Linked DNA regions of Homo sapiens. The protein of the gene in region 1 interacts with the protein of each later gene in a pairwise test. Each region holds a gene or a part of one and is shown in the gene's direction. Other genes may lie near its edges.

Region 1 (7,725 bases):
CATCCCAAACCCTGGAACCCTTTCCATGACGGTTTATTCTGATTTGTTCAGGAGACACATTTCTTCTGTTTTCATGTGGAATGGGCTTTGTTCCTCTCACGGCCGGCAGAGGTTAAATTAAAGGGGCCAGAAAATGCTGAGCTGTGACTAGGATTGGGGGGCCAGTAGGCATTTATTGGCCCCGTTTGCTTCTTTCTTCCCTTTTTTTCTCTGCCTCCTCGGTCAGGGGGTCCAGGACTATCTCTCCAGGGGCATTTCTGGTCTGTGGAGACTTGCCTGAAGGCAGCTGGAAGAGTCTGGGCTGAACTCTAGATGCCTCAGGCTCAAATCTCATATTAGTGAGGGAAGAAAATTCTAAATGTGTAAATGGTACCTGTAAGTCACCTACAAATAATTTTTTTCCTTTCCTGTGCAGTGTCTGGGAGCCAGCTTCTGAGTGTTGTCAAGGTAGTCCTGGTGGCTTGAGACTGGTGATGTGCCGTTGCCAACAATGGCTGTGTAATTCTGAGCAGTTGTTCAGCACTCAAGTGGGATGAGAATGGCAAGGAGTGCTCTGGGTGGCTTTTGACAAGGGACCCCGCCTGTCATTCACTCAACAGGTGTTTGAGGAGCCAGTCTGTCTCCGTCATCTGTTCCTGCCTTACTTAGATGGAAAATAATGAAATCTGTGTAGGAAGGGAGGGTGAGTAGAGGGATGGCCTGTGTTGACTGAACAATAAAATAGTGATGTTAATATATTTTGCTTATTTATTTTCTTAAAGGGAGCTGGCACGTTTCAGTTCTGATACAAGTTAAATATTAACAATGTCTGAAAATACCACAACTTAAACTTTAATATGCATGGGAATCTCCTGGGGCTGATAATAAAATGCAGCTTCTAATTTAGTTGGTCTTGGTTGGGACCTGAGGTTTTGGGTTTCTGACCAGCTCCCAGGTGTTATGCTTGCAGTTGGTCAGTGGCCCACACTTTGTGCAGTAAGGTCTTAATGCATTTCCCCCTGTGTTCACTTTAGTGTCTTTTTCTCTAGAAATTCTCTGAAGAGGACACTTTACCTGGTAAGAACTATTATTAATAATGCTATTACTTAATCTAAGAATTTTTGTACCAAGAATTTTCTAGTGATTAGCCCTACATTGTTGTAAATGACATTCTTAAATGTGTCCATACTTTATTCCAGGGGCAAATATTTGTACAGTGTCCTGCTTTGACATTTGTTTGGATTCCTGTGGATTTTATTTAGTGGTTTCTCTTTTGTTTATGATGATAGAACACTTTTAGAAAGGTTTGAAACCTTTTGAATCTTGAGCGGATTTGGAAGCCCCACCTGCCTTCTTTTAAGAATGTAGGAATTGTATCTGCTTTGAGCTTGTGCATGCTAACACCCCACTTCTTCCAAGGTCCTTGCTCAGTGCCTTCATGTCTCAGCATCACAGCCTGGAACCTGGAAGGCCTCCAAGCCATAGAAAGAAGCAATAAAGATGTCCCAGTGGGGCTTCTGGCTGGGGCCCTTGCCTGTTTCTGTCAGCGTTAGCCCGACCCTACCCTTGGAGGTAGGGTTGGGTTGTCCCATTATTTCCCTGTCAGGGTAGGTGGTATTAAAGCAGCTTTTGTCTTGCTTGCACTGTGAGTCTGTTCTGTGTATAAGGCTCCACTGTGTGGATCACCTCTACTTAATGCCACCTTTTGAAAAATTCTACCACCAAAGTTCTTCCTTGGATAGCAAAGACATTTTTGAATGTTTGTATTTGTGCCTGCCCTAGTTGATCAGTAAATGCATTGATGGGCTCCATGGGACTTTGGACCCATTCCTTTGTCATCTTTCATTAACAGTCTTCCTAGGCTGGTGGTGATGTTGGGCAACTTAATGCTTCCTGAAGGTTTTAGATACTACAGGAGCTAATAATTTATTGCCAAATAAGTGAGGAAACTTTGGATTAGATAAAGTTGGTTTCTTTATGGCACAACATTTCAGAAAATTTTGTGTGCCACAATGTATTATGACACTTTAAGAGGAAGATGGCTAGACTATGGTGGTTCCAAATTTTGGGGGGTCGGGGTGGAGTTAGAACCCCTCTTGTGCTGATTATTTCATTAGGCTAGTTTTTTCTTTCTTTAGTTCCGGGATACATGTGTAGAACGTGCAGGTTTGCTACATAGGTATACGTGTACCATGGTGGTTTGCTACATCTATCAACCTGTCATCTAGATTTTAAGCCCCCCAAGCATTAACTATTTGTCCTGATGTTTTCCCTCCCCTCAGTCCCTCTCCCCTCCCTGACAGGCCCTGGTGTGTGTTATTCCCCTCCCTGTGTCCATGTGCTCTCATTGTTTAGCTCCCACTTATGAGTGAGAACATGCAGTGTTTGGTTTTCTGTTCCTGTGTTAGTTTGTTGAGGATGATGGCTTCCAGCTTCATCCATGTCCCTGCAAAGGACATGATCTCATTCCTTTTTGTGGCTGCATAGTATTCCACGGTGTATATGTACCACATTTTCTTTATCCAGTCTATCATTAATGGGCATTTGGGTTGGTTCCATGTCTTTGCTTTTGTAAGTAGTGCTGCAATAAACATAGGTGTGCATGTATCTTTATGGGCTAGTTTTTTCATACAGTCCTCTCTTAAAAAAAAAAGCTGTATTGAGGTATAATTCACATACCATACAATTTACTCATTTAAATTTGAAGTATATAATTCAATTATAATTAGTATATTTACAGATATGTGCAATGGTGTGTGTGTGTGTGTGTGTGTGTGTGTGTATACAGATTGCTGTGGTCTGAATGTATCACCCAAAATTCATGTGTTGAAACCTAATGGCCAACGTGATGTTATTAAGAGGTGGGGCCTTTAGGAGGTGTTTAAGTCATAAGAGTGGACATAGATGGGATTAGGGCCCTTTTAAAAGGGCCTGAGGGGGAATGGGTTTGCTCTCTTCTGCTCTTCCACCATATGAGGATACAGCATTTGTTCCCCTCTGGAGGGTGTGGCAACAAGGCACCATCTTGGAAGCAGAGAGAGGCCCTCACCAGACACTGAACCCCAGTGCCTTGATCTTGGACTTCCTCTCTTCCAGAACCATGAGAAGTAAATTTCTATTATTTATAAATTACCTAACCTGTGGATTTTGTTATAGCAGCACAGACAGAAATTGATACTGAGAGTGGGTGTTGTTATAGCAAATACTTAAAAGAAAAGTGGAATTGGGTAATGGGTAGAGGATGGAACAGTTTGGAAGTGTTTGCTAGAAAAAGCCTAAATTTCTGTGAACAGAGCATTAAGAATGATTCTGGTGAGGGCCCAGAAGAAGAGGAGAGCCGTAGAGATAACCAGTGTCTTCTTAGAAACTTCTAAGTGGCTGTGATCAGAATGCTGGTAGTATTATAGACAGTAAAGCCCGTTCTGCTGTGGTCGTATATGGAAATGAATATCTTATTGGAAACTGGAGGAAAGACAGTCCTTGCTACAAAGGCGCAAAGAACTTGGCTGAATTGTGCCCATACTCTAGGGCTTTGGGGAAGGCAGAATTTAAGAGTGACAACCTAGGATATTTGGTGGAAGAAATCCGTGAGCATAGTATTCAGTATGCTGCATGACTTCTCTTAATTGCTTACAGTAAAATGTGAGAGAAATGAATTGAAAATGGAATTTATAATCCAAAGGGAAGCAGAGGCTGGGCACTATGGCTCATGCCTGTAATCCCAGCACTTTGAGAGGCCAAGGTGAGAGGATTGCTTAAGCTCAGGAGTTCAAGACCAGCCTGGGCAATATAATGAGACCTTATCTCTACTAAAAGTAAAAAAAAAAAAAAATTAGCGGAGTGTGGTGGTGTGCACTTAGCCCCAGCTACTCAAGGGGACTGAAGTGGGAAGATCACTTGAGTCTGGGAGGTCAAGGCTACAGTGAGCCATGATTCTGCTGCTGCGCTCTAGCCTGCGTGACAGAATGAGACCCTGTTTCCAAAAAAGAAAAGGAAGCAGAATTTAAGGATATGGAAAATTTTTAGCTTGCCCAGGTTGTAAAAACATGTTTGGGAGAAAACACTAAGGGTGTGGCCAAGTGACCTTTTGATAAGGAGATTAGTATGGATAGAAGGAAGCCAGATGCTATTCATCAAGATAATGGAAGAATGATCCTGAAGGCATTTCAGAGATTATCAGTGCTGCCCCTCCCATCAGAGGCCCAGAGTACCAAGGCCCAGGGAACAGAACTTATGTCAAAGGAGAGGCCTTGGGCGTCTGCAGGACCTCAGCATTCACTGCCTGGCATCACTTCTCTGCTCTCTGCATTACAGTGCAGCCCTCCTTGGATATCCCAGCTGTAGCTCAAGGGGGCTCAAGTGCAGCTAGTTCCATTGCTGTGGAAGGCACAGGGCATAAGCCTAGGTGGCATCCACATGGCGCTAAGTCTGCAAGTATGCAGAGTGCAAGAGCTGTGGATGCATGGCTACCTTCACCTAGATTTGAAAGGATGCCTCAGAGAGTCTTGGGCTCAGACAGAGAATTGCTGCAGGATAGGTCTGCTGCAGAGACTCCCTGCTAGGATAATGCCTAATAGAGCCATGGGGCAGGAGTGCCAAAAAGAGCCCCCACTAGGGCAATGTCCAGCAGAGTCTTGAGGCTGGGGGCACACTAGCGAGCTCCCACAAGGACAATGCCTAATGGAGCTGTGGGGGTGGGGCTGCCCTCGAGAGCCTGTAACTGTAGAGTTACCCGTGTGTAGTGCCAGCCTGGGAGAGCTGCAGGTACCCAACTGCAACCTGTGAGAGCTGCTATGAGGGCTGTGCCCAGCAGTTGGCTGCAGGGCTGCCCAGGTCCTTGGGAACCCAACTCCTGCCCCATTGTGTCTGGAAGGCAGGACATGGAACCAAAGATTTATTCTCCAGCCTTACCATTGATTTAATGTTTGTCCTGTTTGGTTTTGGATTTGGTTGGGAAATGTTACCTCTTTTTTCTTTCCTATTTCTCCCTTTTGTAATGGGAATGTCTGTTCTTTGTCTGTTCCACTGTTTTTTTTTGTTTTTTTTTTTTGGAGACAGGATCTCACTGTGTCATTCAGGCTGGAGTACAGTGGTGTGATCTCGGCTCACTGCAACCTCTGCCTCCTGGGCTCAAGCTATCTTCCCACTTCAGCCTGCTGAGTAGCTGGGACTACAGGCGTGTGCCATCACGCCCAGCTAGTTTTTTTTTTTGTTTTGTTTTGTTTTTGGTATTAGAGATGGGGTTTTGCCATGTTGCCCAGGCTGGTCTCGACCTCCTGGGCTCAAGAAGTCCGGCCGCCTCAACCTCCGACAGTGCTGAGATTACAGGAGTGAGCCACTGCTGAAGTCTGAAGTACTTTGCCTCAGGTTGAAACACATCTTTGAGTCTCACATGTCTGATTTAGATGAAATTTTAGACTTCAGACTTTTGAATTGATCCTGGCCTGAGATAAGACATTGGGGCTATTGGGATGGAATGAATGTATTTTGTATGTGAGAAAGACATAAATTTGGGGGACTTGGGGTGGAATGCCATGGTTTGAATGTTTGTGTCTCCTTATGGCCTTATCACTTCCCCAACGCAACTCTATTAAGAGGTATGGCTTTTGGGAAGTGATAAGGTCATGAGGGCTCCAGTCCCATGAATGGATTCTTGCCCCCATCAAAGGGCTGGAGAGAACTAGCTAGGATCCCCTTTTTGCACTTCTGCATTCTGCCATGTGAGGGCACAGCAAGAAGGCCCTCACCAGACACCAAGTGCTGGCATCTTGATCTTGAACTTCCCAGCTTCTAGAACTGTGAGAAATAGATTTTGTTCTTTATAAGTTATCCAGTCTCAAGTATTTTGTTATAACTGCAGAAATGAATAAACACACACACATACATTGTATATAGTGTTCAATTAATATATTCACAGCTATGTGCAACCGCCACCATAGTCAATTTTAGAACAAAAAGAGACCCTGCACCCTTTAGCTATCATACCCCCACTCCCTGCCATCCCATTGCTCCCCCTGCTTTCCCAACCCTAAGGAACTCTACTTTCTGTCTGCATAGATTTCCCTGTCCAGGACATTTCATGTGAATAGAATCGTCTGTGGTTTTTGTGAGTGTCTTCTTTCACTTAGCATAATGTTTTCATGGTTAATCTATGTTGTAGCATGCATTAGTACTTCATTCCTTTTTATGGCTGAATAATATTCCCTTGTATGTGTAGTCCCAGCTGCTTGGGAGGTTGAGGCAGGAGAATGGCATGAACCCGGGAGGCGGAGCTTGCAGTGAGCTGAGATCACGCCACTGCACTCCAGCCTGGGTGATAGAGCGAGACTTCGTCTCAAAATAAATAAATAAATAAACAAACAAATAAATTCCCTTGTATGTATATACTACTTTTTGTTTATTCAACTGTTGATGGACATTTATGTTTCTACCTTTTGGGTATTGTGAATAATGCTTCTGTAAACATTGGTGTATAACTATCTTTGAGTACTTGCTTTCCATGTTTTTGTATATATGTCTAGATTATAATTGCTTCATTATATGGTAATTCTATGCTTAGCTTTTTGAGGAACTGCCAAACTGTTTTCTAGAGCAGCTGCACCATTTTACATTCCCAATAATAATGCACAAGGGTTTCAGTTTCTCCACATTCTTGCCAACACTTGGCATTTTTCGTTTCCTGTCCTCTCCTCTCCTCTCCTCTCCCCTCCCCTCCCCTCCCCTCCCCTGCCTTCCCCTCCCCTGCCTTCCCCTCCCCTCCCTTCCCCTTTCTCCCCTTCCCCTTCCCTTCCCCGTCCCCTTCCCCTTCCCCTTCCCTTCCCCTTCCCTTCCCATTCCGCTTCCTCTTCCCTTGCCTTTCTTCCCCTTCCCCTTCCCCTTTCTTTCCTTATAGCTGTCCTAATAGGTGTTACATCGTTTGGCTGTGTCCCAAATCTCATCTTGAATTGTAGCTCCCATAATTTCCACATGCTATGGGAGGGACCTGGTGGGAGGTAATTGAATCACGGGGTTGGGTCTTTCCCATGCTATTCTAGTGATAGTGAATAAGTCTCATGAGATCTGATGGTTTTATAAAGGGGAGTTTCTCTGCACAAGTTCTCTTCTCTTGTCTGCCACCATGTGAGACATGCCTTTCACCTTCTGTCATGATTTTGAGGCCTCCTCAGCCACGTGGAAATATGAGTCCATTAAACTTCTTTCTTTTGTAAATTGCCCAGTTCTCTGATATGTCTTTATCAGCAGCATGAAAACGGACTAATACAAGGCATCAGATGATTGCTCATTGTGGTTTTGATTTGCTTTTTGTTACTCAGTTGTAGGAATTTATATATTCTAGATATTAATACTCTTATCAGTTATGTGATACGCAACTGTTTTGTCCTTTTCTGCAGGCTGTCTTTTCACTGTCTTCGTAGTGTCCTATGACGCACAAAAATTTTTAATTTTTGATGAAGTTCATTTATTTTATTCTTTTGTTGCCTGTGCTGTTGGTGTCATATCTGAGTAGTCATTGTCAAATCCAATGTCCATATAAAGATTTTTGCATATGTTTTCTTCTAAGAGTTTAACAGATAATTTTATTTCTTCCTTTCCAATTTGGATGGCTTTCATTTCTTTTTCTTACTTAATTGCTCTGGCTAGAGCTTCCAATACTGTGTTAAGTAGAAGTGACAAAAGCAAGAATTCTGTCTTGTTTCCACTCTTTGGGGAAAAGCTTTCACTATTTCGCCATTGAGTATGATGTTT
Region 2 (8,500 bases), on another chromosome or scaffold:
AACCCTGATGAAAAGCTAAACTGAGCCCAATTATTCAACAGTAAAATTCAGTTGGTCTCACTCAGGTATTCTGGCAGTGGCTATTTAATGAAGGAAGCTTAACGTAAAGAGGCAATGCAGTCTAATGGGAAAGCCAAGGGTGGCTAGGATTGCCTAAAACCAACCAAAACAAACCCACGCATCAAACTAGGATGCTTAAGCTGACACATACTACTGACCCCATCGAGCTCCAATGGGCTCTCCCCAGCACTGACCTGGAATGCCTAAATTAACTTCACATTTCACATTCTCAGGTAATCTATGATCCAGAAAAACATAAAGAAAGTGCCTCCAGCCAGATTAAAGAAAACTTTTAGAATAGGGAACAGTTGATTTCTCTCAGCCCAACACTTGGGACACCCCCCAAAATCAAAGAACTGGGTGGTCACTTAAGATGCTTGGTTATACCACAATCCATGGCCACTGGTTTAGTTAGGGGAGATTCGGTTCATAAATCAAAACATTAAAGAAAAAACAATTGCAATACACAGAAAATGTAAAGCTAGTTCTCCAAGATTTTGAAATTTGTAAAAAGAAACTCATGTTCAGAGCTATCAAAAGACAGACTGCTATTATACTAACCACTTGGTAATTAGCATAATGGAGGGAAAAGCCATCATCCTCTTCCCTTCTAAAAACACTGTGTGCTGTGGGGTCGTCCATGGGCTTCAACCGGAAAAAACCCATGTTTCCTTCTCCCAGCTCACTTACACAAAGTGGTAGATTTTCTTAAATGCTTACAGGAAAACGTATACAGACAGATGTGAGCTCAAAGGCAGAGCCTGGCAGCTCCCAGGGACCACGCATAATAGCTACTCAACAGCTCAGAGGCTGCACATTTAGACTTCAAGGGTGGGTTGGAAGGAGTTCCCCAGCCCTCCATCTGGAAAGACTTGGGCATCGATTTTCAAATTTCAAATGTTCTCATCAACGTGGGCACAAGTTTTCTGCTCCGATTAGAGGTGCCTTCTCCCTTTAATCCGTAAGTGATCCTTTATAGTGTACCAACCTTTGCCTTTTCTTCAACTAACCAAAAATAAAACTATCAAAACTCACAACTTTTGATTGAACTGAACTCAGAGCGGATCTAAGCCCAAGATAACAGGCACTCCTCAATTAACCAAACAGACCCGCTAAGAGCAATTTACGGCCCATTTTCTACCTTTCAGCTTAATTTTTCATGTTTCCATGACGTGATGCGACTCGCTGTTTCCTCAGCTAGGGATGTGAAAGTGAGGACGCAGCCAGAGAAGCTCGAGCAGCATGATGGGCCTGGTGACAATCACGCTAACTTGGAAGATGGCTCCATCACCTCTACTGTCTGGAGACAGCAAAGAGCAGAAAGCCCACTCCGTGTCCACTGGTGCCTGGAGGAGGCTAACCCAAGGCTGGCACGGCCACCCCCTCTGGACCCATGTCTATCAGAGGGGGTAGGGAAGATGGCAGGGCAGCAAATATCAGGCACAGCCAACACACAAACATCAAAAACTGATTTTTAAAGTTTCTCTAATGATAAAAACAAGGAGTGGTGGTCTCAGACCTTCCACTGGAAGTCGATCACCTGCCTCACTATTATTTAAATAAAAGAACACACTTATGAACACAAATGGAAAATACAACTACGAGAGAAAAAATGACTTGCTTAATATGTAGAAATTAACTGTCTTTGAAAAGAACATGAAGTTTTTATAATTTACATGAAAAAAAGGCAAACAAACCTGGCTAAACGTCGGTTTATTGTGCAACCGAGAGCACCTGTCTCCATGACGACATGCTCCAATTTTGAAATAAAATGAACAGTTGACTCTGTAAGGGAAAATGAGAGCTGATTATTTTGCTGGGAAGATATCAAACACATGGAATATGTCAGCAGCATGACATACACTATCAAATTACTTTTAACCTCACAGAAACATGACACAGACTTTTTTCCGTGGTATTAAGCACCTCCTCTTCCTTGCTGTATTTTAGGACAACGTAACTTCAACTTCCCTTTCTGCAAACACACTACTTGTTCAGCAAAGACGGTTCTAACTCTAACCCGCCTCCTCCTCATTCAAATCCCCTCCACTTTCCTAACTGCACAGCTGTTCTGTTTGTTTCTTAAATGGAGTATTAAATTAGTCTAAAACTAAATGTAACTTAGGCAGTATCTGTTCTCCAGTTCTCCACGACCAAGTTCTCTCTTGAAAAGACCGGTGTGGTGAGGGTTAAGATCCCAACTCTGCTACCAGCTGCTTGGGCTTGGGCAAGTCACCCTAGCTCTCAGATGTCATCTGTAAATGATGACAATGCCAATGTGGCACTGTTCTGAGAGTCAGACAGAACGTATGTGTGCTTCACATATGGTGCTCATGAAGTGCTATCATTATCTAAGGAAAACAGAAAACGAAGTTCAGAGTCTCTCTAAACGCATGACACCAGACCAACAGGGAGTTTCAAAAAATAGGTCTGAAGTAAATCAATTCTCCTGGTCTCAATACACTGAAAACAAACTATTAGGGGACTGACCAAACCCACCTTAGGAACCACCTTACGTCACCTTCTGTCTCTACTGCAAAACCCTCCCTTAATACTGTTCAAATACGCTGACAATCCAGATCCATATCCAATGGAACCAGCAATCATGCCTGTGTGCCAGCAATGTCAGGGAGGGAAGCCGATCTCTGATGAATTAGGACATCTTACCAGACAGACTTTGTTCAAAATTCAATTTTTTTTTAACCAAGTGCCATTATGTTTTAAACAGTCAATCCAGAGTTAAGATTGAAGGGCCTCAACCTCAGTGAAATCTGATGGACCATGAAGACTGACTAGCCACTGATTTATTATCAGGTAGCAATAAAGATGGGAAAGTCCAAATTTATCAGGAGAGGAAAGTGATTATATATATTTGCAAACTTACAGGTCTTGAGATTATTTAACTTGATTAGACAATAGCATATCTTTAGGAAGTCATCTAAAAATAAAGAAAGCTTATTTAAAAACTACCTCAGAATGGGCAAGCCCTGGGCCTCAACAATTAATATCCAATTATTCCACACAATTAAACTACAGACAAGCTATTAGGATATCCCTGAATCTAGAAAACATCTATAACTTCAAACATATAATAAGCTAAACATTTTTTAATTGGTAGAGATCTATATTTTATTCTTAGCTTAAATAATAATTAAAGTTAATATGAACCATCAGCTTCATTTTTCAGGAGTTGATCCTGTTCCCTGGAAGCTAAAACCCCACGTCTCCCTGAAAAGAAAACACAAGTAACCTAGATTAAATAATCAACTTTTCTGAATTAAAACCATGACCTTTATAGTATAGCCCAATAGATTGAAATGTGGTTGCTTATAGCAGAAATATAGGGAGATAGACTTTTACAAGACAGAAGTCATGCCACATGCAAATATGAAAAGGAGAAATTAATGATGCCCCGATCCTACATGTGTTAGTTCTTCACCCTAAACTCAGAAGAGTCTCTTGTTCCGATAGAGCTGGTCTATTCATTCGCCAAGATCATACCGTGAGTTCCTTAAGGATAATATCCAAATTTTACCCATGTTTAAGTCTCCAGAAACTGACCTATAGTTGACCCCCACTAAATGTTTCTGGAGTGACTATAACTGGTAGATTTTGGCTTAAAATTTTGCTAGAAATATAGCCTCCTCATCCAAACAACACAGGAGATTCTACCATGTGTGAAGAGGACATTTTACAAGATAGACTCCATCCTGGAAAAGAGAAACATTTTAAATAGCGTTTGAAAAAAGTGGCATTAAAAACATCTATGACAAACTTAGGGGTTTATCATTGAAAACATAAAGTCATGTTAACTTTGTATGGCACTGAAGAATGCCAAGATAACTAAAGAGTAGATTAAGCCAGATGCTGAGTCTTTAGGTTTTCAAAGTAAGAATTATCCTTCAAACGTCTGAAAACATTCCATTTAGTCTAAACTACAGCCAACTCACTGGAAATTAGTACGTGCCAAGGTGGCAATTAAAGCTGAAATTAAATGTTTTGCTTTTAACCTAACGATTGATTAGGGAAGGCATGCAACCTTAAGGAAAAAATCAAAACATCTTTTTCCTTATATCAGAATTGTGTCTTCAAGAACAGTCACCGACTTACAAATTTTCAACTTAGATGATGGGTTTATCGGGGTATTAAAGGCATTTTCGATTCATGATGGGTTTATCGGAACGCAATCCCATGGTAAATCCAGGAGCACCTGTATGTTAAGAGCGGATCACGTCTCTTGTGGTTAGATAGTTAATCCAGTAGTCTCCACCATACTTTTTCTCGTCATATCTCCTTACTGCCGGCCCAGCGGTCGCTTAAACAGGCAAGAGGCTGGCTAAGTGGATAAAACACCAACGCTTAGGACCCTAAGTTAGATAAGCGACTGAATACTGGCGAGGCTGGTACCAGAGCTTGCTCGACAGGACATTCACAGCCGAAAGTTGGAACAAACGTGTCCACGTCCAAAAGGCCCGGATGCTCCAGGCAACTTTCAGCGCGGCTCGAGGCGGCTTCCGGGAGCCGGCGACTCGGAGGCCCGGACGTCGGGCGATCAGCCAGTTCGGACCCCAAGGCCGGAGAAAGCTCGGCCGCGGCGCCCCGAAAAGAGACCCCATTCATTCTCCCCGCTCCATTTTTCCGCCGCGCGGCCCACGAGGCGGCGGCTCCGGAGGGCGCGCAAGGGGCCGGAAGGGCCACCGCTCCTTCCCGCCGCGCGCCCCTCCCCCGCCACCGCCGCGCCGGCCCGCCTGGGCCTCCCCGGTCGCCCTCCCACCGCCTCAACCACCCTGCGCCCCGATCGCGCCCAACCCCCGGCGGGGGGCTCCCACTCACTTGTCTTTCTCGGTGCCGAAGATGGAGGCCAGATACTCCGCCATTTCCCACCCGCCGCCGCCGCTGCCGTCGACACTGCTGCCGACGCCGCCGACCCTGCCGACGCCCGCGGGAGACGTCACCCGGACGCGACGACGCTCTTCCCCGCCCCGACGTGGCAGCGCTACCCAGTCAGGCGAGGTGCTGCCTGCGCGTGGGCGGGACGCATGCGCGTAGGGAGCACGTAGTGCGCGTGGGAGGCTCCGCCTTTTCGGTCCTGGGAACCCGCGCCCCCTGCCGGTGCCCTCCCCGCCCGGCCCTAGCTCTCTCGCCTTCTCGCCCGCCCGGCGCTGGCCCTGCTGGATCCTGCGCGCCGGGGACTGGGGGCTGGCAGTGCAGACCGAACCCGGGGCCGAGGGGCTTCTCCACAGAGCCGCCTGGGGCTCGGTGGGGGGCGCTCAGCTCGACCCCAGCTAAGGGAGCACTAGGAAGTGCGGGCGTCCCCTTCCCTGCACCCTTGCGGGGCGGGAACCGTCGACCTAGAAGAAAAAAAAAGCTGAGGCAAACTTGATATAAGTAGAGAGGTTATTTGGGCCAAGTTTGAAGATTGCAACCCGGGAGCATAGCTTCAAGTTGCCCTGAACATAGGATTTGCAACAGTGACAAGTGGGTTTATAAAGCTTAAGAGGGGGGCAGTTCTTAAATAGCTCACCAAGAATTTACATGAAAATAACAAGCTATTAATTGGCTGTACGTTGTTCTTTATATCATAATTCCAGGAAAGGAAGTTCATGGGTGAAGGCAGCGGGTCCGGAGCAATAGTGCCTTTAAACAATTGCCAGGCATGGGTGGGGACCGCTGAAGCCGCATAGACCTGTCTCTCCGGGCCGGATTAACCTCGCACGCCTCACATAGCTCGGACGCTCTGTGTTGTTTTTCTCTTCTCACACCCCTCTCCGCTTTACCCTCCCTCAGCGCTTGCCAGGTGCGACCTCCCCGGGGCCCTGCACTCTTGCAGTTGCCTGGCCAAGGCCACCCACAGGTGGAGCTGGAAGGCCAGTGACCTGCCTCTGGGATACCCTTTCAGTCTCCTCATGTCACAAGGCTGGAACCATTCCGTTGGAAGGGTTCTATTCCTCTCCTGCGTTTTAACCCCATCAAGCAGCCATTTTCATCTGGTTTCCCACATTCATCAACTCACCTGCGATTTACCTAATTTCCAACGCAACTATCAACTCTGATTAGGTAGAAGTCAGAGAGACAGGGCCTATTTTACTTACCTCCTCCACAAGATGAGCCCCAGACTGTGGGGCAGGACCATGGGATCCTCTTAGCTCGGCTAGAGCTGAATGCTGAGCTCTAGTGTTTGGGCGGATTTGCGTGTTAGAATTGCATTTCTCTTGGCAACAGAGCATCTTCCTACCTGGGAAAGATGAGCAAACTGGAAACCTGTATTAGAAACAGTAGGGCCTCAGAGGTTTAAACCAAAAAGTATCTTGAGACAGGGCTCAATCAATTTAGAAGTTTATTTTGCCAAGGTTAAGGACAATGCCTGGGAGGAAAAAAAACACGGTATCACAGAAACAGTCTGTGGTCTGTGCCTTTCTCCAAAGATGACTTTGAGGGCTTCAGTATTTAAAGGGGAAAAGTGGGCTGGAGGGGAAAGCGGAACAGTGTGGTAATCCACACGTTGCAAGAGAAAAGAAGCAGGTTGGGAACAGTCGACTGTGTACAGCTCACTCCTCAGCAAATCAGCACTTTACATAAGAGAAGCGGATGTTGAACCTTCTATCTGTAGCCGTCTGCTTAGGAACGAAAGGAAAGGCAGCTGCTTACATGACTCAGCTTTCAGCTCATTCTTTTCCTTTTGACAGAGTGAACTGGGGTCCTGACTTTTGTGTTCCTTTCGCAGAGGTGAGGCCAGAGAAGTGACAAGACAGATGCCAGTCCAGCAGGTGGGCATGTCCAGAAAGTGCAGCCTCAGGACACGGTCTGGGAACAAAGACTGCTGGAGAGTTGGAAGCTGGCAAGAGGCTCTCAGCTGTGAAGTACCTGGGGTGGGGGAGAAGTGGTCGGAGAAAGCAGAGGTAAGGTCTGTGCGTGGGAACTGAACTGAAATCCACAGCTCTATTACAAGGAATTAATCTGGTTACTAGAACCAGGGTAGATGATCAGACCAGGCAGGGCCACCAGTACCATCCACCCATTTTTCCTGAGAAAAGAAAAATAGGGTAGTCTGAGCTCTGTGAGGTGTGCAGAATGATCAGGCCCAGAGAGGCAGGAGTGTGGGACTTCATTCAGCGCCTCTTCCACCATAGAAGCAACTGTCCAGGGCAATTGTTTGATGGAATTTTTGCTCCTGACAGGCTGCCTCACCCATTATCTTCTTGTTCACATGGAATTAGTGATGCTAAGAACGATGCATAGCCAATCAGCACCTTCTGTTATTTTAATGCAAATTCTTGCTAACAACTTAGGGACTGCCTCTTCCTTTTCCTTAAAACCCCACTGTGACTGCTGCTAATGGGAACATATGTTCAGGGCAACCTAGGGGCATGTGCCCAGGGAGCCATCCTCAAGCTTTGGGCTCAAATAAACTCTATACTTAATCATATTTCCTGAATTTCATTATTTGAGGTTGACATTTTGGCAACCCAGATAGGACCTGAAGCAGGCCTTCAGGGATTGCCACTAAGTAGTGGCATCAATAGTTGGAGCCTTGGTACCAGCACAAACGACTGTTGTTTACTCGACCTCACTGGGGCTGGCAGGGGTCTCTGGTAAGGCCAGTCTTGGGATCTGAATCCTCCCAGCTTAGTTGAAGATTGAGACTTACACACTAATAATTTGATAGGGTTAGAACTGAAGCTCCACTGAAAGGTAGGAGTTTCCATTTTTATTCTCTAGAGATTCTGTTGACTGCAGATTTGTGATTTTCACTTCTGTCTGAGGTTTTGCTTGTCTTTTTACAGTTTGCAGCCTTTTCTCTCATTCGAAATTTGGTCAAGGAGAAAGTGTCATCTTTAAAACTGGCCATATTCTGAAACTTGGTTCAACTGACAAATCTAAACATTCTTCTTCTTCTTCTTTTTTTTTTTTTTTTTTTTTTTTTGAGACAGAGTCTCGCTCTGTCGCCCAGGCTGGAGTGCAGTGGCATGATCTCGGCTCACTGCAACCTCTGCCTCCTCAGTTCAGGCAGTTCTCTGCCTCAGCCTTCTAAGTAGCTGGGATTAGAGGCGCCTGCCACCATGCCCTGCTAATTTTTTGTATTTTTAGTAGAGTTGGGGTTTCACCATCTTGGCCAAGCTGATCTTGAACTCCTGACCTCGTGATCCCCCTGCCTCGGCCTTCCAAAGTGCTGGGATTACAGGCGTGAGTCACCGCGCTTGGCCATTTTCTTCTTTAGTGACCAAAATTCCTCCCCTTAGGCATTTTTGGTCATTCAGAAGGAAAATCTAAATTATGGACACTTGTGCTTCTAGAGCAGACATGCATCTGCAGAGACGGCAGCTGGATTCGTGGACAATGCTTATGGTGCCACCTTCTGTCAGTATCTAGAAACATGGTCTCACTTAACCCGTGAAGACCCCAGACTATAATAGCTAAAATGGGGCGCCTTTAAAGTAAC
Region 3 (7,725 bases), on another chromosome or scaffold:
CTGGGTGTGGTGGTGCATGCCTGTAGTCCCAGCTACTCAGGAGGCTGAGGCAGGAGAATCGATTGAACCTGGGAGGCAAAGGTTACAGTGAGCTGAGATCGCGCTACTGCACTCTAGCCTGGCGACAGAGCAAGACTCCATCTCAAAAAAAAAAGGGTTGTCCGGTTACCTGTGCATGCCAGGTAATCGACAAATGCTTTTTATTTTTATTTATGTATTTGTTTAGAGACAGAGTCTTGCTCTGTCGCCCAGGCTGGAGTGCAGTGGCATGATCTGTGCTCACTGTAACCTCCACCTCCCAGGTTCAAGTGATCCTCCTGCCTCAGCCTCTTGAGTACCTGGGATTACAGGCACCCATCACCATGCCTAGCTAGTTTTTTTGTATTTTTAGTAGAGACAGGATTTCACTATGTTGGCCAGCGTGGTCTCTAACTCCTGACTTCAGGTGATCTGCTCGCCTCGGCCTCCCAAAGTGCTGGGATTACAAGCATGAGCCACCCCACCCAGCCAACAAACGCTTTTTAAATATAAGTATGTCCCATGCAGCGTGTCCCCTAAAGAACGATGTGTTGTTCATCTGAAACTCAGATGTTACCAGGCGTCCTGTGTTTGATGTGACAACCCTGTCCACAGCCCTGGCACGGAAGGGGCAGTCGCTGAGGGTGCAGTCTTGGGGTGAGGGTCCCTGTGATGGCAGCCTGTGTCCAGCTTGGACTGGCCATGGGAAGGCCACTGTGTGGGCGGGTCTGGCCTTGGTAAAGGGCCACCCCCTGAGACCCACCGAGCCTAGTTCCAGTTTCCTCCTCACAACCCCAGCCTGGAAGGGCGTTCGGGTGTGGAGCAAGCCACAGGGTTTCCCCCCAGTGTGGTTCGCATTGGGGTGCCGGGTGGTTCCGAGTCAGCTGCCCCCTCTGCCTCCTCCCCGTGCCCATCACAACTGCCCCCAGTGCTGGGACCTCTGGGCAAGAGGCTGAGGCTGACACTCTGGAAAGGTGTGCAGTGGTGTTGTGGGGTCCCTGGGGTCCGGTCCACATACATCCCTGCTTGCCCGGCTCTTGGCATCCTGTAGGAGAAGGTGCCACAGCCTAGTGGGTGGGAGGGCAGGAGCCCCATCACTGGAGTCGGAGGTTGCTTTTGATGTTGATGGCAGTGAGGTTGCTTCTGATGTTGATGGCAGTGAGGTTGTTTCCGACGTTGATGGCAGTGGACTTGCCTCCAGGTTAGCTGCCTCCCCAAGCAGCTTTGGGGGTACAGAATGACCGACCAGTGTGGGATCCCAAACATCCTATCCCCTTGCCTGAAAGTGGGACGAGGCTGAAGCTGACCTCTCGCTGAGACCACCTCATTCGGCCCCGTCCTCTGCTGCCACGTCCTTCTTCCTGGTACCCCCCTTCTCCAGCCCCAAATAAGTCACGTTCACAGGATCCCCAGCTCAGGCTCTGCTCCTGGAGAAGCTGCCCTCAGAGGCTGCGTTGCCGATTCCTTTTTCAACGGAGAGGCTGCAGCGTGTGGCAGGTGCCACCATCTCTTGGAGTGAGGCAGCCTCAGGGGCTCTGTCCGGGGCTGCAGCCTGATTGGTGATCTTTGCACGCCCCTTCTCTGCCCTGGCTGGGCCATATGCCACATGGGGCGTGAGGGGCCTGCAACACAAGTCCCTCTGGGGGCTCGTGATGTGGTTGAGCTGGAAGATACATTCTGGAACATCTAAGACCCCAGCCACTGTCCTGAGTCTGGATGCCGCGGGTGCCGGGCATGGGGGCTCTGGGCCCGGGCCCTGGGGTGCTTGGAGGTGCTGTGGAGGAGGGGTGGGGCTGGCTTGGAGCCCATGGGATTCGATTGGAGGGTGGGAGTGTGAGAGAGGAGAGAGCGTGAACAGAGCCTTGGACAGAAAAGCCTGGAAGGATCAGGACCCTTTGGGGGGTGGCGGGTGAAGGTGGCGGGGTGTGGGGATACCCTGGGGACGGACAGGTCACTTGAGGCTACAGGACTTTGAATTCCACACTTAGTTTGGATCCCACCCTCTGGTGTGGGGCGTGTGAGTGGAGGGGGCCTGGCTAGGGAAAGGGGGGGGGCAGTGGGGAGTGGAGGGCTGCTTCGCTCCGAGAGATGGCGGCACCTGCCACCCGCTGCAGCCTCTCCGTTTAAAAAGTGACTGGCAGAACAGGAGCAGCTGCTGCCAGCTCCTGTCCATTTTGTCCTCTGAAAAGAGAGGTCGGGGTGGCCAGGTCCTCATTTTTCAGGAGACAGAAGAGAGCTGAATTTTTATGTCAAATCTCTTGGTTTTGAGTTGTTAGCAGGTAATTCCAATGTTTTATGAAAACAGCGGTGGGACGAATAAAACCTACGTATCAGTAAGTCTCGGCCTCCAGGCCTCTGGTCTGCAGCCTGTGCCACCGTGAGTTGGAAGAGTGGTGGACGGACTCTGTTCTCCCCGCAAAAGCCCTTTCCAGGGTGGCACATCCACGCCGTTAGTGCCCGGCTGCAGGGAGAAGCTCAAATGACAAATGAGGCTTGAGGTTTGCCGCGTTGGGCGTCGTGCTGAGGCCCAGCCGTCCTCACGGTGACCTTTGGCATGAGGAGTCCTGGTTCCACTCTACAGACGAGGACACTGAGGGCCAGCGGGGCCCAGAAACTTCCCTGAGTCACAGCTCACAGAGCAAGACATGGGCCCAGGTCTGCTGACCGGGTTTCCTTTTTATTTTATTGTGGTAAGAGAAATACAGAATGTACCACGTTAGCTACTTTTAAGTATACAATTCAGTGGTATTAATTACCTTCACGGTGTTAGGTAGCTGTCATCACTGTTTACCTCCAAGGCTTTCCCATCATCCTACTGCAAAACTCTGTCCCTATTCAACACTGACCCCACAACCCTCCCCAGCCCCTGCACCCACCGCGCTTTCTGCATCTCTGAGCGTGACTACTCTAAGGACCCCGTGTACATGGAATCATCCGATATGTGGCCTTTTGTGCCCAGCTCAGTTCACTCTGTGTAATGTCTTCAGCGTTCATCCACATTGCAGCCTGTGTGAGAATGTTCTACCTTTTCAAGGCTGAATGATGTTCCATCGTATGGACGGACCGCATGGCGTCTGTCCATTTACCAGGTGATGGACTTGTGGGTTGCCTTTCCCTTTCCAGCCATGGAAACAGTGCTGCTGAGAACCCAGGTGCACAGGCAGCTGCTGCAGTCCCCACCCTCCCTTCTTCTGGGGATATCAGGTCTGCTGATTTTATGTCTGAAGGTCATGGGCCACTGTCCCTTCCCTATGCCCTTGAATCTCTTCCATGGTGTGTCCACTGTGTGGTCTTCCTGGATACCTCCAGCAATGGGGAGCTCACTGTCTCCCAGAGCAGCCCATTCAGGGCTTAGTGTGTAGCCCACACCTGTGTCCCTGTAGCTGCCACTCATTAGCCTCCTAACCCAGGACGCGTTTCCTTGTGCCCTTGGCAGGGGCTCCGTATTCACTCTGGGTTCTGTGGTCCTCACTCTGCACCACAGACTCTGATGCCTCCCTTCTCCCTCCCCGATTTCCAAGAGAGAACAAGATCTAGCCATGAGAAGCAGGATGGAGGTGTCTTCAAAAACAGCCACTGGTGATAGAAGTTGTAGGAAGGTACCATGGTCTGTCTGCCTCCACGCAAACCTCACCAGGTTTCATCAAGATAGCACACCAGGAGTGGTGTGGCTCATGACTGTAATCACAGCACTTCTGGAGGCTGAGGCAGGATCACTTGAGCCCATGAGTTAGAAACCAGCCTGGCCAACATAATGAGACTGCCATCTCTACAAATAATTTACAAAGTAGTGGAGCATGGTGGTGCACGCCTGTAGTCCCAGCTGCGCAGGAGGCTGAGGCAGGAGGATCGCCTGAGCCCAGGGGTTCCTGGCTGTCGTGAGCTGTGATGGTCTCACTGCACTCCAGCCTGGGCAACACAGCGAGAACCTGTCTCAAAAAACACAAAACAACAGGAAGCTCAGACAGGACTGTGGCTGCTTCAACCCTGTCCGTGGCCAGGCTGTGCCCCCTCCTCTGTCGCTGGGCACTCACCCCTCTCTCATTTTCTCCCCAGGGACCTACCAGGGCCAGTGGGTCGGTGGCATGCGCCAGGGCTACGGCGTCCGGCAGAGCGTCCCGTATGGCATGGCCGCGGTCATCCGCTCACCCCTGAGGACGTCCATCAACTCCCTGCGCAGCGAGCACACCAACGGCACGGCGCTGCATCCCGACGCCTCTCCGGCGGTGGCCGGCAGCCCGGCCGTGTCCCGCGGGGGCTTCGTGCTCGTGGCCCACAGTGACTCCGAGATCCTCAAGAGCAAGAAGAAGGGGCTGTTTCGGCGCTCGCTGCTGAGTGGGCTGAAGCTGCGCAAGTCGGAGTCCAAGAGCAGCCTGGCCAGCCAACGCAGCAAGCAGAGCTCCTTTCGCAGCGAGGCGGGCATGAGCACCGTCAGCTCCACGGCCAGCGACATCCACTCCACCATCAGCCTGGGCGAGGCTGAGGCCGAGCTGGCGGTCATCGAGGACGACATCGACGCCACCACCACCGAGACCTACGTGGGCGAGTGGAAGAACGACAAACGCTCCGGCTTCGGCGTGAGCCAGCGCTCGGACGGGCTCAAGTACGAGGGCGAGTGGGCCAGCAACCGGCGCCATGGCTACGGCTGCATGACCTTCCCGGACGGCACCAAGGAGGAGGGCAAGTACAAGCAGAACATCCTCGTCGGCGGCAAGCGCAAGAACCTCATCCCCCTGCGGGCCAGCAAGATCCGCGAGAAGGTGGACCGCGCCGTTGAGGCCGCTGAGCGGGCCGCCACCATCGCCAAGCAGAAGGCTGAGATCGCGGCTTCCAGGTAGGAGGGCGAGGGGGCGGGGGGCCCTTCTTGGTGCCCAGAAGGTGTTTGTGAGCCCAGTCTGTTCAGTCCTGCTGTCGCTCAAGGCCTTGGGCTAGGCCCAGTTTGAGGCCTACACTGGTGTTTCTCAAACTATGCCCCCATGGAACCCTAGGGTTCCCTGGAGGTTCTCAGAGGTGACTGTGGTCAGGATTGGTGCAGAGGAATGGTTGATTTGTGGGGGTGTAGAGGCCTACAGCCTCCTTAAACTGAGCAGTGTCTCTTTGTTCTATATGCTGATGTTTAGTGTAAAATATTGGTGAATAAAGAAGGTGGTCTGTTCCGTTAGTACAATGCATTGGAGTGCTGCTGTGCTAGCTAGTAGGGGTGACACCACCAGGTGGGGGTGGCAGGTCCAGCACTGCAGGGCTGTGGGAGGTGGCTAGGAGCTGCCTCAGCTACCCAGACCTGCGATCTAGATTCTTCCGGGACCCTGGGAGATGGCAGCAGTTGGGAGGCCAATTCCGAGTGCCTGGCAAGGGGCTCATGCAGGCCTGGTGCTTTGGGGGCAGCCGCTGTTCTGAATCGGCTGCATGACTTACGGAATTTGGGGTCCAGTGGGGCCTCTAGGCCCTAAGGAATGGGTCCAGAGGTGACTGTGGGTGGGATCGACGTGGCTTTTGGGTACCTTTAGGGGTGGGTGCAGGATGGGGCCTTTAGGGCTGGAGGAAGGTGCCCAGGGTCTGGCTCCTGTGGAGGTGAGTGTGTGAGCCAGGGGCTGGTCCCCGCCAAGCTGTGGCTGGCAGGAGCCACCTGCTGCAGGTTGGAGGAAGTTCCCCTGTGGAAAGCCACGGGCCCCACAGGTAGGCATTTGGGTTCTAAAGTAACTGAGGTTACTAAAGGGCTTTGTCAAGACTTGGGAAGGCATTTCAGAAAACCCAGAGCCTTTGCTTTCCACCGGCATTTGCTTTCCTGGGCCAGACGAGGGCCCTTGGGGTAGCCCGGAGAGTCTTGGGGCAGGGATCTGGGAGCTGCGGGGGAGTCCATGGGCTGCCCAGGCAGGAGGCTTCCCAGGGCACGTTCCCCTGCGTCTTTCTGGATGGCTTTGTGTTCTCAGCCAGGGGCAGACCTGGAGTTCCTCCAGGAAAGCTCCCAGCCTGGGTGCGGCTCAGCCCTTCCCGACCTGTCGCTAATTAAAGTTCAGCCCATTTGGTTCTGATTTTCAGTGACCTTTGATCTATAGTGAAAAACAAAAATGGTGGCTGCGGTTTGTTGGCAGAATATGTTGCTCGCGACTTCTATTGTTTTAGAGGGAATCAAGATCGATTCCAAGAAGCTGAAAGAAACATGGAATTACTACCTGACACCGAGGTCCAAACTCGCTGTTTGCCCCTCCCTGCTCCCTCAGAAATGTTCAGGCAGGGAAATAAACAGCAGCCCACGTGTGACTACTCATCTGGGGTTTTAAGAACAAATTAGAATCAGTAGTTATTTTTTCCATCATAAATGTAATACTTGTTCCACAGGAAAATAAATAACACTGAGAAGGGAGAAAGCAGCATTAGCTCTGGTCTGATGGATCGGCCGAGCGCTCTCCTTGGCATTTTGGTGAATTTCTTTCCTCTGTGTTTTGTTTTTCGACCCTTTCTATTTTGTATAGTTGCTTTTTTGACCCTAGTGGACAAGAAGCAGTTTTGGGGGCTGGGGGACAGCGGCGTCACGGAATTGAGGAAGCTCGTGGCAGCTTCCGTGTGACCTGCAGATTGGTTCATGAGTTCATTGGTTCATGAGTTCTCAGCAGCTCGAGGACTTAGTGGACAGTGCCCTGCAGGACTGAGCTTATTTCACAGCCTTGGCACTGGGTGGATGTCTGTAGGACTGGGGGGACCTGCGACCTGAGATAGTTTTCAGACGAATTCCCCTAGACATTAAGAGAAGCGGGTTCCCATTAAGGAGCCCAGGTGGCATGGACAGGGCTGGGGGCAGCACAGGTGAGGAGCTGCTCCAAGGCAGGTTGTCAGCCTCTCTGGACCTCAACTTCTAATCTCTGAAGGCCTGTGAAGCTTAGGTGGTAACAGCTCCCTTCCTGGGGCATCCAACCTCTTCCTGGGGTTTTGGGGGGCCCAGGGGCTCTGTGGAGCATTGCTGGGGGAGATGCCTACGTATAAGTGGGCATCATGCTGGGGTGAAAGCCCAGGGGCTGGGCCGGGAGGGCGAGACCTGAGACCCATGCAAAGGAGCCGGGGCCAGGGTGGGGTGGGCACGGCTCCTACTGAGTCCCCAGCCCTTGGGACGCTGGCCAGCCAGCCTTGGCATGGCCAGCATCCCTGTGTCTCCTGGGGAGGCATTTTACTTAATGGACAGAAGGACAGACAGACGGGTGGAGGGAGTGAGAGGGAAAGGATGGGTTTGCAGGCTGGTGCAGCTGTGAAACTGACGGAGCCCACCCCCTGCCAACCCCCCGACAGCCTTTGAGGCCCAGCAGCCCATGCTCCCTGGCAGGTTGCGGCTTGCCTTCTGCACTGGCGGAGTCCGAGCTGACTCCGTCCCTTCGCCCGAGCGGGCGTCGCGGGGAGGGAGGTGGTTCCTGCTTCCGCATGCGCACAACTGGGGTCTTGGATCGTAGCTCCTTTGTGAGAAAGGGACTGGCTCACCCGCCATGTCCTGCTGTCCACACACACGGCTCTGCACACCACTCACGGCCTCCTCACCGCTGTGCACAGCCAGCACGTCCATGCGCACCTGTGGAGCCAGGGTGTACGGCTGCACAGGTGCGCCTAGGTGGAGGTCTCCAGGTCACTGGAACTTAAAGTGTCCAAGAGAGGAGGTGTCAGGCCTCAAAGGGGCACTAGGAACTGGCGTCTCACCCTTGCCTCTGAGACCCGCAGACCCAC
Region 4 (7,725 bases), on another chromosome or scaffold:
ATTTTCATATATATATACACACATGTATTTCTAGCAATTTTTTTAACCAAAAAAAGAGGTAATATTATATAGACATTTTTTGTTTGTTTGTTTGAGACAGAGTCTCACTCTGTCGCCCAGGCTGGAGTGTGGTGGCACAATCTCGGCTCACTGCAGCCTTTGCCTCTTGGTTCAAGTGATTCTCCTGCCTCAGTCTCCCGAGTAGCTAGGATTACAGGCACGTGCCACCATGCCTGGCTAATTGTTTTCGTATTCTTTTAGTAGAGATGGGGCTTGACCATGTTGGCCAGGCTGCTCTTGAAGAGGATCAAGTGATCCGCCCGTCTTGGCCTCCCAAAGTGGTGGGATTACAGGCATGAGCCACTGTGCCTGGCCCTATATAGACCTTTTTTGTCTTGGAAATTAACACTACTGAAGTTGTCATGGAATTTTTTGGTCTGACAGGTTTATACAGTGCAATGCCTCGAGACATCCTGATAGTTGTGGGCAATGAGATTATCGAGGCTCCCATGGCATGGCGTTCACGCTTCTTTGAGTACCGAGCGTACAGGTCAATTATCAAAGACTACTTCCACCGTGGCGCCAAGTGGACAACAGCTCCTAAGCCCACAATGGCTGATGAGCTTTATAACCAGGTGAGTCCCTAATTATAGGCTAGCTTATTACTAACTTTTCTAAATGATCCACAAAGAGTAAGATAGAGATTCTCTGATACCTTGTATATATTATGCATTTTAGAAACCGAAAACATCATCTTATTTTTAAAAAGTGATTATTTTATGATGAATATGATAAGAGTAAATGATCCTATGATAATAATAATAATGGCTAACACTTTTTGGTGCTTACCTTGTTCTGGGTCCTGGGTTAAACCCTTTATTTACATCCTCAATCCTGTTTGTTTTTCACAACAACCCTAATCATACTGTAGTATCATTCCATTAGATGGGGAAAAACTTGCCTACAGGTGTACCACTGTTCATTAGTGGAACCAGAAAAGTCACTAGACTGAAGTTCACTTTCTTCTTCTAGAAAAAGAACCTGATCTACAGTTCAAATTCACAGTAAAATGAAATGTATGTCCCTTATTAAATCAGTTACCATTTGATCTTTTATAGAAAAAAATTTAAAAATCAAAATAGCTTCTGGGTTTAAAGACAGAAATAAATAATGAATTAGTTTTGCCACTCCCAATCAAATTTGGCAGGGGAAACATGGCATCTCGTTTTATGGTATGAGTTAAGCTCGGGACCAAATTCCTTTTCTAAAAGAACAGAATGACTTCATCCTGTTTACTTTCCGTACGGTTCATGGAATATTCTCAGAATCAGTTACTGCCTCTGTATCACTTTTTTTTTTTTTTTGAGATGGAGTCTTGCTCTGTCACCCAGACTGGAGTGCAGTGGCGTGATCTCGGCTCACTGCAGCCTCTGCCTCCCGGGTTCCAGCAATTCTCCTGCCTCAGCCTCCTGGGTAGCTGGGATTACAGGTGCATGCCACCATGCCTGACGAATTTTTGTATTTTTAGTAGAAACGGGGTTTCACCATGTTGGCCAGGCTGGTCTCGAACTCCTGACCTCAGGTGATCCACCTGCCTTGGCCTCCCAAAGTGCTGGGATTACAGGCATGAGCCATCTCACCTGGTGTGTACCATTTTTTTCTAAGTACATAGTGCCCCTTCATCCTCAGGGGATATGTTCCAGACTCTCAGTGGATGCTGATACTGAACTCTATATATTTTGTTTTTTCCTGTACATATATACATACCTATGATAAAGTTTAATTTACAAATTAGGCACAGTAAGAGCCTAACAACAATAATGAATAATAAAATGGAACAATTATATAAATATACTTTACTAAAAGTTAGGTGAATGTGGTCTCTCTGTTTCTCTCAAAATATCTTAATGTTTTGGGACGACAGTTGACTGAAGGTAACTGAAACCATGGAAAGTGAAATCATGGGTAAAGGAGGACTGTTGTATCAGGAAATTACTATAATGCTAGTTTCTTGTTTTATTGTTGTTTTGGTTTATTTATCATGGACCCGCTTCTTTCCCAGGCATGTTTTAGTCTAGAACTGAGTAGTAATATTTTGGGAAATGATGTTAAACTAATTTTCTTAGTACTGTATGCCTTATGAATAATTTTCTCATGATCCAGTGCATTGTGTGTGTTCATTCTTGTTCCAATTAGGATTATCCCATCCACTCTGTAGAAGACAGACACAAATTGGCTGCTCAGGGAAAATTTGTGACAACTGAGTTTGAGCCATGCTTTGATGCTGCTGACTTCATTCGAGCTGGAAGAGATATTTTTGCACAGAGAAGCCAGGTGAACGCAGGCTGCCTCTGAAATTTCACACTATATTATTGTATTCTTTACTTCCAAATTAAAATATTTTCATCCTAAATTTTTTTCACCTTGAATATTTTTAGTTTTCTAGACATAGAACCAAATATTTATCGATCGTATGTCTTTCTTTTGTTTTCAGGTTACAAACTACCTAGGCATTGAATGGATGCGTAGGCATCTTGCTCCAGACTACAGAGTGCATATCATCTCCTTTAAAGATCCCAATCCCATGCATATTGATGCTACCTTCAACATCATTGGACCTGGTATTGTGCTTTCCAACCCTGACCGACCATGTCACCAGGTAAGAGATTTCTTGGGACTCTGGAAAAGCAACAGAATCTAGTAACTAAAATAATTGCCACTTTTATTTTAAGCACTTCCATGGTTCCTAATGGTTCTAAATGACAGATTCAGCAGTACTCAACATTATTATGATCAAACATTGGATTCCTTATGGCTTATTACAAGATGTCCACCATGCAGAAATATACATAGTTGACACAATAATTAGTATGGGATCATCAGACTTTGGCCACTTGCTGTTGTCAGAGCCTCAAGTTTGTGCATATGTGTGTATTTTTATCAAACGATGGTGTTATAACTTGCAACAGTGGTTCCACAGCAGCGAATTTTGGACAAGATCATCCTTGCATGGCCAGGGCAATGCCACTGGGCAGTGGTTGTATTCCCTCTACAGTGGGGTAGCCTCCCTTTGGCCAACCCTGCTCTGTAGGGAAAAGTGAAGCCACTGCACTGCAGCTGGTCTATCCCCTTCACCTGCAGCCTCCTACTTTCTGTCCATAGCCTCCTACTTCCAGTTAGGTGATGAGTGATTTTCTGTTACTTGCAAGGCTGCAGTACAACTTTTAAAAACCACTGTTATACTGTGTCACTGTTCATTTCTGTTTTTTATTTTTAAACCCGATGACCATGACTACTTATTCATTTCATTTTATTATCATTTATTCGTATAGTAAGTGGGTATGTGAACACAGGGACGGCTAAGTTGTAAAAGGTCACTAAGGACAATATGGTTCTTTGAGAATGCATAGCTAACAACTGTCTTTATACCATGGTCCTAGATACAAAATGATGGGCAAGAAGTAGAAGGACTGTGGGTTTGATGTAGTCACATTTTTGTTTTCTTGTAACTAAATAGGAAATTTTTCAATTTTTAAAATGAGAATTTCTTAAGGACAGTATCTTTGGTTTTTTAAGTCTCTGAAACCTGAGAAAAGTTAAGACTATCTTTAAAAGCTGTAACATTTCTGTTACTTTTTAACTTTAATCTGGGGATTTTATGTACATTTTTAATTAGGATTCAGACAAAATCACCCAAATGTTTAGAAATTTTAATTTCTTTCTTTTGGAAGCTGAGAAGACAGCTTCTCAAAGAGAATTATTACTGATAAGGGCTATTAGAGACTAATAATAATAATAGTATATGTAGATTTAACGGTTTTGGGGGTTTTTTTTGGTCTTACAGATTGATCTTTTCAAGAAAGCAGGATGGACTATCATTACTCCTCCAACACCAATCATCCCAGACGGTATGTTTACTTTCATACACTGTTAGACTAAAATAATTACTTTAGTGACCAAGGATCTTTCTCCTATAGAGAGCAGCCCAAATGTTAGCAGCTTAGAGAATGTGTTTCCTCAGTAAGGTGTGAAGTGGTGCTTGGGACTGTGAGCATCAGAACAAGGCTGGGACTTGTGTTTGCAACTTTTTCATCCATAGAAAATGAAGTAAGGAGAAGACAGAATAAAACAACATCACGTAAAGCAAGATATGACTTTTTTTTTTTTTTTGAGACAGTGTCTTGCTTTGTCACCCAGGCTTGAGTGCAGTTGTGCAGTCACAGCTCACTGCAGCCTCAAGACTCCTGGGCTCAAGTGATCTTTCCACTCCAGCTTCCTAAGTAGCTGGGACTACAAATGCAGGCCACTATGCCCAGCAAGTTATTTTTTTTTATTTGTAGAGATGATGTCTTGCTGTGTTCCCCAGTGAGGCACCATCTCTGGGCAATAGTCTCAAACTCCTAGGCTCAAGGAATCCTCCTGCCTCAGCCTCCCAAAGTGCTAGGATTATACCATGCCCAGCCAAGATATGACTTTTAAAAGAAAACAGGGTGAAATTCAAATGTATAATGAGTACAGATTGATTCATACCATTTATAGATAAATTGTTTTAAGATTAAAATAAATGTTCACATGGAAAGTGAACTACTGAAAGAACTGAGCTGTCACTTTAATATTCTTCACTTGTAAATCCTTGCTTTAAACAAAAATGATAGCGGACATGGTTTAACAGTTGTTGCTGTTTTTAGATCATCCACTCTGGATGTCATCCAAATGGCTTTCCATGAATGTCTTAATGCTAGATGAAAAACGTGTTATGGTGGATGCCAATGAAGTTCCAATTCAAAAGATGTTTGAAAAGCTGGGTATGTACAACAAATGAAACATGTTGTCATACATGAAAACGTTAAATGAGAAGAACTAAAGAAATGACATGCTAGGTTTGATAAATGGTTTGTCTAATTCAATTTTGATTCCTTTTAGAGGCACCAAGTTATTATTTCACAGAAAGTCAGTATTTTTATTTTCAACACACGTAGCCCCAACAAGTTGGAGATGCATCCTGAGCTCCTGAGACATCCCCTTAACAATAAGTTTATAAATCTTATATGACTTAGCCAACGTTTTGGTGCCCATGTGCAGAAAACCACCCCTTTGCAGGTGAGCAGATAGCTTGTTCAGCCCTTCTTCAAATAAGAAATCATTGTGGGTCCTTTAAAAGTGTCCTGTCATCACATATTTCAAAGGACTCAAAAGGGTACGGATGCAGAAGTGACTTTTATGTGTGATAAGCATAGTTAACAAAGTAGCGAAATGCAAGAAAGTGTGTCAGTAAATCATTCAGTTTTGAACTGAAGAGCAGGACCAGGTTTTACTTAAGTAGTTTACTTATCCTGATATTCAAAATTTAGACCAATGATTCTAGTATTATTGAGAAAAATGTTGAAGGGAAAGGATTTTCATATGAGCTATTATAAAGGGGTGTGTGTGTGTATTTTGAGACAGAGCTGTGTCGCCCAGGCTGTAGTGTAGTGGCGTGACCTCGGCTCACTGCAACCTACACTTTCTGGGTTCAAGCGATTCTCCTGCCGCAGCCTCCTGAGTAGCTGGGATTACAAGCATACACCACCATGCCTGGCTAATTTTGTATTTTTAGTAGAGAGGGGCTTGGCCAGGCTGGTCTCGAACTCCTGACCTCAAGTGATCCATCCACCTATGCCTCCCATAGCATTGGGATTATGGGTGTGAGCTACCATGCGCGACTAGGAAAGTCTTTCTGAATGGCTCATGCCACCTTCCTCTCCCTGGCTATACCAATGGACCCTTTAGTGACTTTGTAGCCTATCCTCCTCTCAAAATAATTAGCTCCTTGAGGAAGAATAATAGATTTTCTTTTTAAAACCCCACTATATCTAACACAACAGATTCTTCCTAAATACCATTGGTTAAATAGGCCATGCACATCATAGCCTTGTCATTACAGATGGTACCAGATTAAACTGATTGTTGGATTTGCTTTGGTACCTGTATAACCATACAAACCCAGATATTAAAACACCAGCTCTGTTCCATTGTTTCCTTATGGTGGCCTGGTGAAGTTAATCTGTATCAGATAAACTCTCCTTATATGTGAATATGTAAAGTCAGCTTTTTAGGTCAGCTAAATTTTGCTTTGCCTACTAAATTAACATGGTAAAATTAGAAACAGTCTGACAAAGTAGTTAATGTATAATTCTAAAAGGCCTTGAGATTTTAGTACTTGACCATTTTGAACATTTGGTAGGTACATCTGCTCAGTCTATTGACTTGTGAATAGTCAATAGAACAAAACTTCAGAGTTCTCTGTTGACTTTTTGGAGAAGATTTTATATTAGCAGATGAAATATAGTTGGTGAAAATAAAATTGGAAGAGAAAATACTATTCTGGGTTGGGTATCCTTAAGGATTAGAACCACAGGACTCCTCCAAGTCTGTAGGCCTACTTTCTCTATGAGAATCGTCATGTTAGTCCATCTAACTGACCTCATCTCTCTTTCAATGCAGGTATCACTACCATTAAAGTTAACATTCGTAATGCCAATTCCCTGGGAGGAGGCTTCCATTGCTGGACCTGCGATGTCCGGCGCCGAGGCACCTTACAGTCCTACTTGGACTGAACAGGCCTGATGGAGCTTGTGGCTGGCCTCAGATACACCTAAGAAGCTTAGGGGCAAGGTTCATTCTCCTGCTTTAAAAAGTGCATGAACTGTAGTGCTTTAAACAATCATCTCCTTAACAGGGGTCGTAAGCCTGGTTTGCTTCTATTACTTTTCTTTGACATAAAGAAAATAACTTCTGCTAGGTATTACTCTCTACTCCTAAAGTTATTTACTATTTGGCTTCAAGTATAAAATTTTGGTGAATGTGTACCAAGAAAAAATTAGTCACCTGAGTAACTTGGCCACTAATAATTAACCATCTACCTCTGTTTTTAATTTTCTTTCCAAAAGGCAGCTTGAAATGTTGGTCCTAATCTTAATTTTTTTTCCTCTTCTATAGACTTGAGAATGTTTTTCTCTAAATGAGAGAAAGACTTAGAATGTACACAGATCCAAAATAGAATCAGATTATCTCTTTTTTTCTAAAGGAGAGAAAGACTTAGAACATACACAGATCCTAAGTAGAACCAGGTAATTGTCTCTTTTTCTAATAAGGAATTTGGGTAATTTTTAATTTTTTGTTTTTTAAAAAATAACCTAGACTATGCAAAACATCAAAGTGAATTTTCCATGAATGTTTTTAATATTCTCATCTCAACATTGTGATATATGCTACTAAAAACCTTTTCATATACATCTTACCTCATTTCAAGTGAATTATTTTAATCTTTTTCTCTCTTTCCAAAAATTTAGGAATGTTTAGTGTAATTGGATTTCGCTATCAGTTCCCATCCTTAAGTTTTGATATTCAATATCTGATAGATACACTGCATCTTTGGTCATCTAAGATTTGTTTACAAATGTGCAAATTATTTAGAGCATAGACTTTATAAGCATTAAAAAAAACTAATGGAGGTAAAACCTAAATGCGATGTGAAATAATTTTAGTGTTGATACCGTATGTGTATTTTTATTCTAATAAACTTTTGTGTTCCAGATTGAATTTGGCATTGGTCTAGTCATTTTAGTATAAGTAAATTATAGGAATGTGGCTCTTGGTACAGAATTCTAATTCTCTAAAATAATCAACATATTCATCACAAAAGTAAACCTAATACATTCAGAAATGTTTAGCAAAGTCAGATTT

What was found.
Region 2: the proteins of GRB10 (region 1) and alpha-crystallin A2 chain interact in binary tests that used the Homo sapiens proteins (3 or more experiments, as listed by UniProt).
Region 3: the proteins of GRB10 (region 1) and JPH3 interact in binary tests that used the Homo sapiens proteins (3 or more experiments, as listed by UniProt).
Region 4: the proteins of GRB10 (region 1) and GATM interact in binary tests that used the Homo sapiens proteins (3 or more experiments, as listed by UniProt).

The regions. Positions count from the first base shown.
Region 1 is NC_000007.14:50,772,466-50,780,190, reverse strand, and holds part of GRB10 (growth factor receptor-bound protein 10), read left to right. Parts: intron 1-5,030; exon of another isoform or gene 5,031-7,725.
Region 2 is NC_000021.9:6,494,236-6,502,735, forward strand, and holds the start of alpha-crystallin A2 chain, read left to right. Parts: upstream 1-4,967; 5' UTR 4,968-5,538; intron 5,539-6,784; 5' UTR 6,785-6,959; intron 6,960-8,500. Other genes in the region: splicing factor U2AF 35 kDa subunit-like protein, read right to left, coding at 1,758-1,845, 4,894-4,937. UniProt on the Homo sapiens protein: Contributes to the transparency and refractive index of the lens. In its oxidized form (absence of intramolecular disulfide bond), acts as a chaperone, preventing aggregation of various proteins under a wide range of stress conditions.
Region 3 is NC_000016.10:87,640,184-87,647,908, forward strand, and holds part of JPH3 (junctophilin-3), read left to right. Parts: intron 1-4,074; coding exon 4,075-4,852; intron 4,853-7,725. UniProt on the Homo sapiens protein: Junctophilins contribute to the formation of junctional membrane complexes (JMCs) which link the plasma membrane with the endoplasmic or sarcoplasmic reticulum in excitable cells.
Region 4 is NC_000015.10:45,360,980-45,368,704, reverse strand, and holds the end of GATM (glycine amidinotransferase, mitochondrial isoform 1 precursor), read left to right. Parts: intron 1-444; coding exon 445-635; intron 636-2,196; coding exon 2,197-2,334; intron 2,335-2,494; coding exon 2,495-2,659; intron 2,660-3,844; coding exon 3,845-3,908; intron 3,909-4,688; coding exon 4,689-4,805; intron 4,806-6,483; coding exon 6,484-6,596; 3' UTR 6,597-7,581; downstream 7,582-7,725. UniProt on the Homo sapiens protein: Transamidinase that catalyzes the transfer of the amidino group of L-arginine onto the amino moiety of acceptor metabolites such as glycine, beta-alanine, gamma-aminobutyric acid (GABA) and taurine yielding the corresponding guanidine derivatives.